2 separate regions of the Homo sapiens genome follow, and region 1 is linked to region 2. Evidence: fine-mapped QTL for protein levels in blood plasma. Region 2 holds a variant in brackets. A gene starts in the other region. All regions are shown on their forward strands.

Region 1 (2,857 bases), not on the chromosome of region 2:
CTCTGTGCCCCTGGGTCGCCTCCCCTGTGGGATGTGTGTGACCGTGAATGTGTGTGTCGGGGATGGAATGTGTGTGCGTCCGCGATGGTGCGCGAATGTGCACCTGGGATGCAGTGTGCGCGAGTTTGAGGGCGAGGGTGACGGGCCACAAGCCAGTGTGATTCTTTGTGTGTCTCTGGGTGTGTCCCAGAGCGGGTCTGCATACGGAGACGTATCCTTGCGGGGGTGTTCCTTGGATGGGGGGCCCCAGAGTGCCTGAGGCCAGAAGTCCCTCCAGGGCAGGGGTCTTGGCCCGTAGGGCAGCGGGTTCCCAGTGGGCCCCCTCAAAGTTTGGGCCCGCTGGTGCCCGGACTCACTGGCTCCCGCTCCCTCTCCCTCTCACCCACTCGCTCACAAAGATTCCTCTCGCTGGAGGCTCTCCGCCCGACGCAGCCTGGCTGAAAACGGTTCTAAGCGCCGCCGGTGGCGGGGACTCCGCGGACCCCCGTGCGCCGGGTCCCGCAGGGGGAGGGCGGTGGCGCCGGCCCGTGGAGACACAAGTCCCCCGGGACCCCGGGCTGCGCGCCAGGCGGCCAGAGCGGCCCCCCTGCAGCCCCGCCCTCCCCGTGGGGCTCATCCCTCCGCCTGGGGGGGCCCGCTGGGGGCCCGCACCCAGCGCGCCAACCGCGTGCGCCCCCGCCTGGGAGCGGTGCCCTGCAGTCCCAGGGGCCCAGAGTCCACCGAAGCAGACGCGTGCGCCCGCCACGTCCTGGCATGCAGAGGGTCTCAGGCCGCGATCCCCCCAGCCCCCGGGGGCCTGGCCTGGCGCCCTCGGCCCAGCTGCCCAGGTAACAGGGCCTCGGGCGCGGAAGCAGGACTCTCTGGACAGTGGACTGCGGCGCCGTGTGCCCCGCAGGTGAGGGCGCCCCGAGGGCTGCGCCGGGGGCGCCTTCCTTTGTTCCCCGGCCGTCCAGGTGGCGCCCGCGCCCCCTCCCCCCGCGGCTGCCCCCGGGGCGCCCGCCCTCTGCTCTGGCAGGGGGGAAGGAGTGGGGCGCCGGGTACTCACGGGCTCCTGATCCGGCTCGCGGCGCCCCGAGGACGCAGAGCAGCAGCAGCAGGGGCAGCAACGGCGGCGGCCGCCGCGCGGATTGGGCGGCGGGGCCCCGGCGGCCGGCGGGCATGGGGCCGGCGCTGCCGGGGGCGCGCGGCGGGCTGCGGCTCGGCGGCGGTGGCGCAGGGCGCGGGACGCAGGCCGGGCGCGGGAGGGCGCGGGCCAGGCCGCCCGCACGTCGCTGGGCGCGGACGCGGAGGCCGGAGCAAGTCTGAGCAGCCGAATTGACAAGGCGCTAATGCGCCGCTGGCCCCGCCCGGCCCCGCCCCCGGCCCGGCCCGGCCCCGGGGGGGCGGCGGGCCCCGCACCGGCCTCCCCGCCGCCCGCCCGCCCGCGGGCACCGCGCGCCCCGCCCGTCCCGCCTCCGCCCCACCGAGAACCGCGCGCGCCCTATCCCGCGGCCCAAAGCCCCCTAACTCAACCCCTACCGGCCCAGGACCTCCCTCTCCAACCCTGCCAGCTCCAGGCTTCCCACCCCCAGTCTGGGACCCGGCACCCCCAATCCCGTTTCCATAACCCTGCCCACTTCCCTGCACCCTCCTCTCAGCCCAGTGCCTCTTCAGTGGCCCCTTTGGTCCCCAACCCTGCCCCACTCCTCCATTCCCCCTTCCACGGCCCAATCTTCTGTCTCGGCCCCCACCCCAGCTCTGGCCCCGCCCCCCCCACCGAGCGGTCCTTGAGTCCCGCCTACCCCCATCTCCAGCCCCTCAGCCTTCCCAGGGGCCTAAAAGTCACCCCCAGCCCCACGCCCTCGGCGCGCGGGTTCCAGCCCTCCCACCTCATCCTGCCTCTTTTCGATTCTCCGCGAGTAGCCTCGGCCCCAGGCTTTGCTGGAAGAAAGGAGAAAAAGCAGGAAGGCACGGAGTCCCTCGCCTTCGCCCTGGCTGCGCTGTCCCCTTCGCGCGCGGGATGGGTTTGAGGTTGCTCTGGGCGCCCCGGGGGCCTCGGGAGGGAGCTCCTGCGTGGGCAGACGGGGAGATGTAGTCCCCTGTGGGAGCCGGGACCCAGGCCTGCGCGGGAACTGGGTCCCGCACCGCAGTAAGAGGGATTCCCAGGAGGAGAGCGGTAAGAAGCTCTTTCCCCGGGACCTATTCACACCCCGCCACGGAAAAATCCACTCAGCGGCCCGCGGGTGGGGTGCGCCACGCGGTGAGTAATCGCTTCGGCGGCCACCGCCCGCCGACTCCAGGTAACGCCGGCTGCCCGGAGCGACGCATAGTTTGTCTTCCTTCTTTTGCGCAAAGAGCCTTCTCCGTGTTATTATTTTTGGCCATTGCTCGAGTTTCGGGACCCCTCCCGGTCCGGGCGTCTCATCTCCCTCCTCCCGGTCCCCACCCGATGCGGGCGCCCAGGAATAAAGGGTTCCTGGCCTCCAAGGCTGCTGCGGATGGGGGTGCCTGAAATGAGAGTTGGGGGGTGCAATTACCCACTTTTGGTCGCAGCCCCGCCCCCAGCTGCAGCGCCCAGGGAAGGGAACGGCTCCAAGTCCCCTTTTCCAGGAGTCCCTTAGAGGCCTGGATTCTCTCTCCTGGTCCCCAACCAGCCAAGGGGGTAAAAGTGTCTGAGGGGGGCTCAGGAGCCCCCATTTGTCTGCCCAAGACTGAAGCCCCACCCTCTCCTACTTAAATCTCCAGTTCAGACTCCAGACTGTCAAAAAACAAGATTGGGGGATGGGAGCCTATAGGGGCCCAGGGCGCCCCTGCTCCATCTGAATTCTGGATGGAGAAGACAGACAAGGAGAGACGCTGCCATTTACTTCGGGAAACC
Region 2 (2,882 bases):
TAACACTGTAGCAAGGGTGTTGCAAGATGCCTATGACCTTATAACCAAGTGGAAAGAGACAGGAGGTGCTTGCTGTTCTCTGTCATCTAAGTGGTGTTGGTGTGGTAGGGACATAACTGGAAGAAGGTTGTGGCACAAACTGAGGATCAAGAGTTCATAAAATTATACCGATTTGGCTCAATGAGTCACCGTGGAGAGACCAACAGTGCCATCAAACTGGTAATGACTTGTACTGAACTGGTTGGCTAGTGGCTTTCTTTCTGCCCTGTGTCTCTTAGGAAAGAGCCATTGTCAATATTTAAAAAAAAAATCTTCAGGGGCTCCTGGCCCTGCCTCATGTTAGGAACAATTGTGTACCAACATGCTTTACCATGCTGCAAAATTTAGGATCCTGTGGCTGAAATATTTTGTAAGAAATGATGCATCCTGAATTTATCATTGAATTTCAAGTCTTGAAATAAGTAAGTTCACATTTCCTTGTTTTGGCATAGAAGTGTTTAGCTGATTAAAGTTTTTGGCACTTGTTTTGCATTTCCTCTGAGAGGGCACTAATGTATGAGAGAAGGTAAACCGAACCTTCTAAGGGAAAGGAAAGTTAAGGAGGCAGGAAAAGCATCTATAGCTCTGTTTTCGGGATTTAAGAGTATAGGTTCTGGAGGCAGACTGCTCAGCAGACTGGAGCCAGGTCCCAAGTCTGGCTTTGCCTGTCACTAGCTGTGTGAGCTCTGCCTTAGTGAGTCTCAGTTTTCTCATCTGTCAAATGGAGGTGACGAGGGCTGTGGTGAGGATCAAGTGAAAAATTCACAAGGAGCCCTTAGCCCAGTGCCTGGCGCTTAGTAAATATTCAACAAATGTTATTAGCAATTTGCTGTCTGTAAGGACACCTCTACAGCTACTCAGAATATTCTGAGAGCTAGTGGGTTCTTGGCTAAGGGGAAGATGAAGAGTATTACTGAATCGACACATTTCATTCTTAGTAAAACGATTTCCCATTTCTGTTGCTTGTGATTTTGAGACTGATGAGGGAATTCTCTCTTTTCCTAAAAGCCAGCAGGAAAGGGGCCTTTTAGTAGAGTCAGTGTAGCTTTCTGAAGTAAATGGAAGCCTTCTCCATTTGA[C/A]AGGCATTCAGCCTCTAGAAGCAACGCGGCTCTCCTCCCATACACATTGCCATCCTTGCTGGGTGGCCCCTTCACCCAGGCCCTCTGCGGGGCAGTACTCACTCGTGCAGCAGCAAGTCCTTGAAATGGATCATCTCCACTATCACCCGGGTGTTCTCCTGGGCAGCCGCGCACAGGTCGTGCTTGAGGTAGCATTCCCGCTGCAACTGGGACACCATTTCCCTGATGGCCGGGCACTTCCGGCTTATGCAGCCGAACCTGTGCCGCAGAGCGTGGGCCTTACATTTCAAGGCGTCTTTGATGAATGACTTGCCCTGAGAACACACAGGCCGGGGAAGGGAGAGAGGGGCAGAAAGCAGAAGACCTCGTTACATGCTTGGACATTTCAGCCCTTCTTGGGCTTACACAGGATATTTCTGACATCAGAACCCCAAGGCCCCACCAGAGACGGACGTCCTCCCAGGTGACAGGCAATGCGACATCCGGAGGCACGTCCAGAGTGACATGACACCCCCAGCACTGGGCAACAAGGGATGTTCATTCTGTAGACGAACACATCTCCCTCCTTCCTCCCTGGCTACTCTGTGAGTTTCCCTCCAACGGGGGCTTCCGTGGCTATGTGTCCCTCAGGTAGCCCTGTGTTGGTTGTGTGGTGGCAACTTTTCTGGAACACAAAGGGAATTTGGCCAGACACAAATCCATAAATCCCTCACGGTTCTCACAAGCAGTCTTCCCTAAGTGGAAGGTGCCTGCATGTCCAAATCTCACACGTTTCCTTTTTCCCTTGATTCCAGGGGCGACACCGAGATTGATTGCTGATTGTACCTCCCTTTCTGCCTCCGTGCCTCCCACGCCCCAAATCCATACCCTTGTCTCCTCCTACCCTACCAGGAAGAGCGCTCTTTTCCTTTTTGAAAATGACTCTACTCCTTTAAACTGTTCGGATTATTGCCTCTAAAAGGCTGGCCTGGCACCCTGCCTGGCAGCATCTGGAGTCTGAACTGCCGCACTGGCGGCCCCTCCCCCACGCTCCCTGCCTCCGAGTGGCGAAGGCAGCCAGGCATACATCTGGCCTGCAGTTCTCTTTCCTGGCAACCCCGTCTGATTGTGCTTATCCTAGAAAGGAGACAGCTGTTGGGGGTGTGGAGGCGAGCTCGGTGCTGCTCCCTTATCAACCTCGCGCAGCCCGGAGGCATTGTGGGATGCCTACCCGGGAATCCCCGCACCCCACATTACTATAGAAACTAGCTGTCGTCGGAGAGGTCACCCCTCTGTTTTTAGACAGGCCCGGAAGTCACTGAGTTGAGAAAGTAAATGGGTTTAGGTTGGAAGTGGGAAGCCAGCCAGCACATTTATTTTGGTTTTGTCTTTAGCAGCCATAGAAATGTCTACAGATAGCGTCTGATCTCTGAAAAACCATGTGGCCCGCATGGCCTCCCCGTGGCCCCCTCTCTTTTGACTCTCCAGCCAGAGCCAAACAGAATGGAGGGCAGGGTGTGCCCGTTTATTAAGCAGTTATGTGCTGAGCATCAACTTGAAAGGGATGTCTCTAACTTGAGAACGTATTCCTGTTGGTTGGGAAAAAAAAGAGGAAGATGAATTTATGCGAGGGCTGTGGCAATCTGTTCTTGGTATTCTTCCCTGACATCCTGTGGGATTGCCCTTAAATACACGTCTTTCCTCCGGATTTCCTATTACGTTTCCTAATTCCCGTTAATCCAGAGTGATGCTTTATTAGGGAGCCTCAAGGAGTTCAAAGTTCTA

Direction of the effects. Alleles are on the strand shown, and positions count from the first base shown. The strength of an association depends on the size of the effect and on how common the allele is.
For the plasma level of the protein whose gene starts at base 1,303 in region 1, A is the low allele of the variant in region 2 and C is the other (weak association).

Evidence for each region. A credible set is the group of variants that fine-mapping cannot tell apart. PIP is the chance, under the fine-mapping model, that this variant and not a neighbour inherited with it causes the effect. The UK Biobank Pharma Proteomics Project read protein levels with antibody pairs (Olink). The fine-mapping took linkage between variants from a reference panel, not from the people measured, so its PIPs are less certain.
Region 1: CRLF1 starts here. The variant in region 2 is the best candidate, but not a certain one, in a credible set for the plasma level of the CRLF1 protein (UK Biobank, PIP 0.62).

The regions. Positions count from the first base shown.
Region 1 is chr19:18,605,497-18,608,353 of GRCh38, forward strand. CRLF1 (cytokine receptor like factor 1) reads right to left here and starts at 1,303. Exons shown (of 9, transcript NM_004750.5): 1 at 1,046-1,303. The coding sequence starts at 1,160. RefSeq lists an enhancer at 425-1,343.
Region 2 is chr5:173,321,999-173,324,880 of GRCh38, forward strand. STC2 (stanniocalcin 2) reads right to left here. Exons shown (of 4, transcript NM_003714.3): 3 at 1,221-1,432. Among named protein-coding and RNA genes, the nearest start is that of STC2, 5.0 kb to the right of the region's middle. RefSeq lists an enhancer at 1,745-2,245. The variant C/A (reference allele first, on the strand shown) is at 1,119.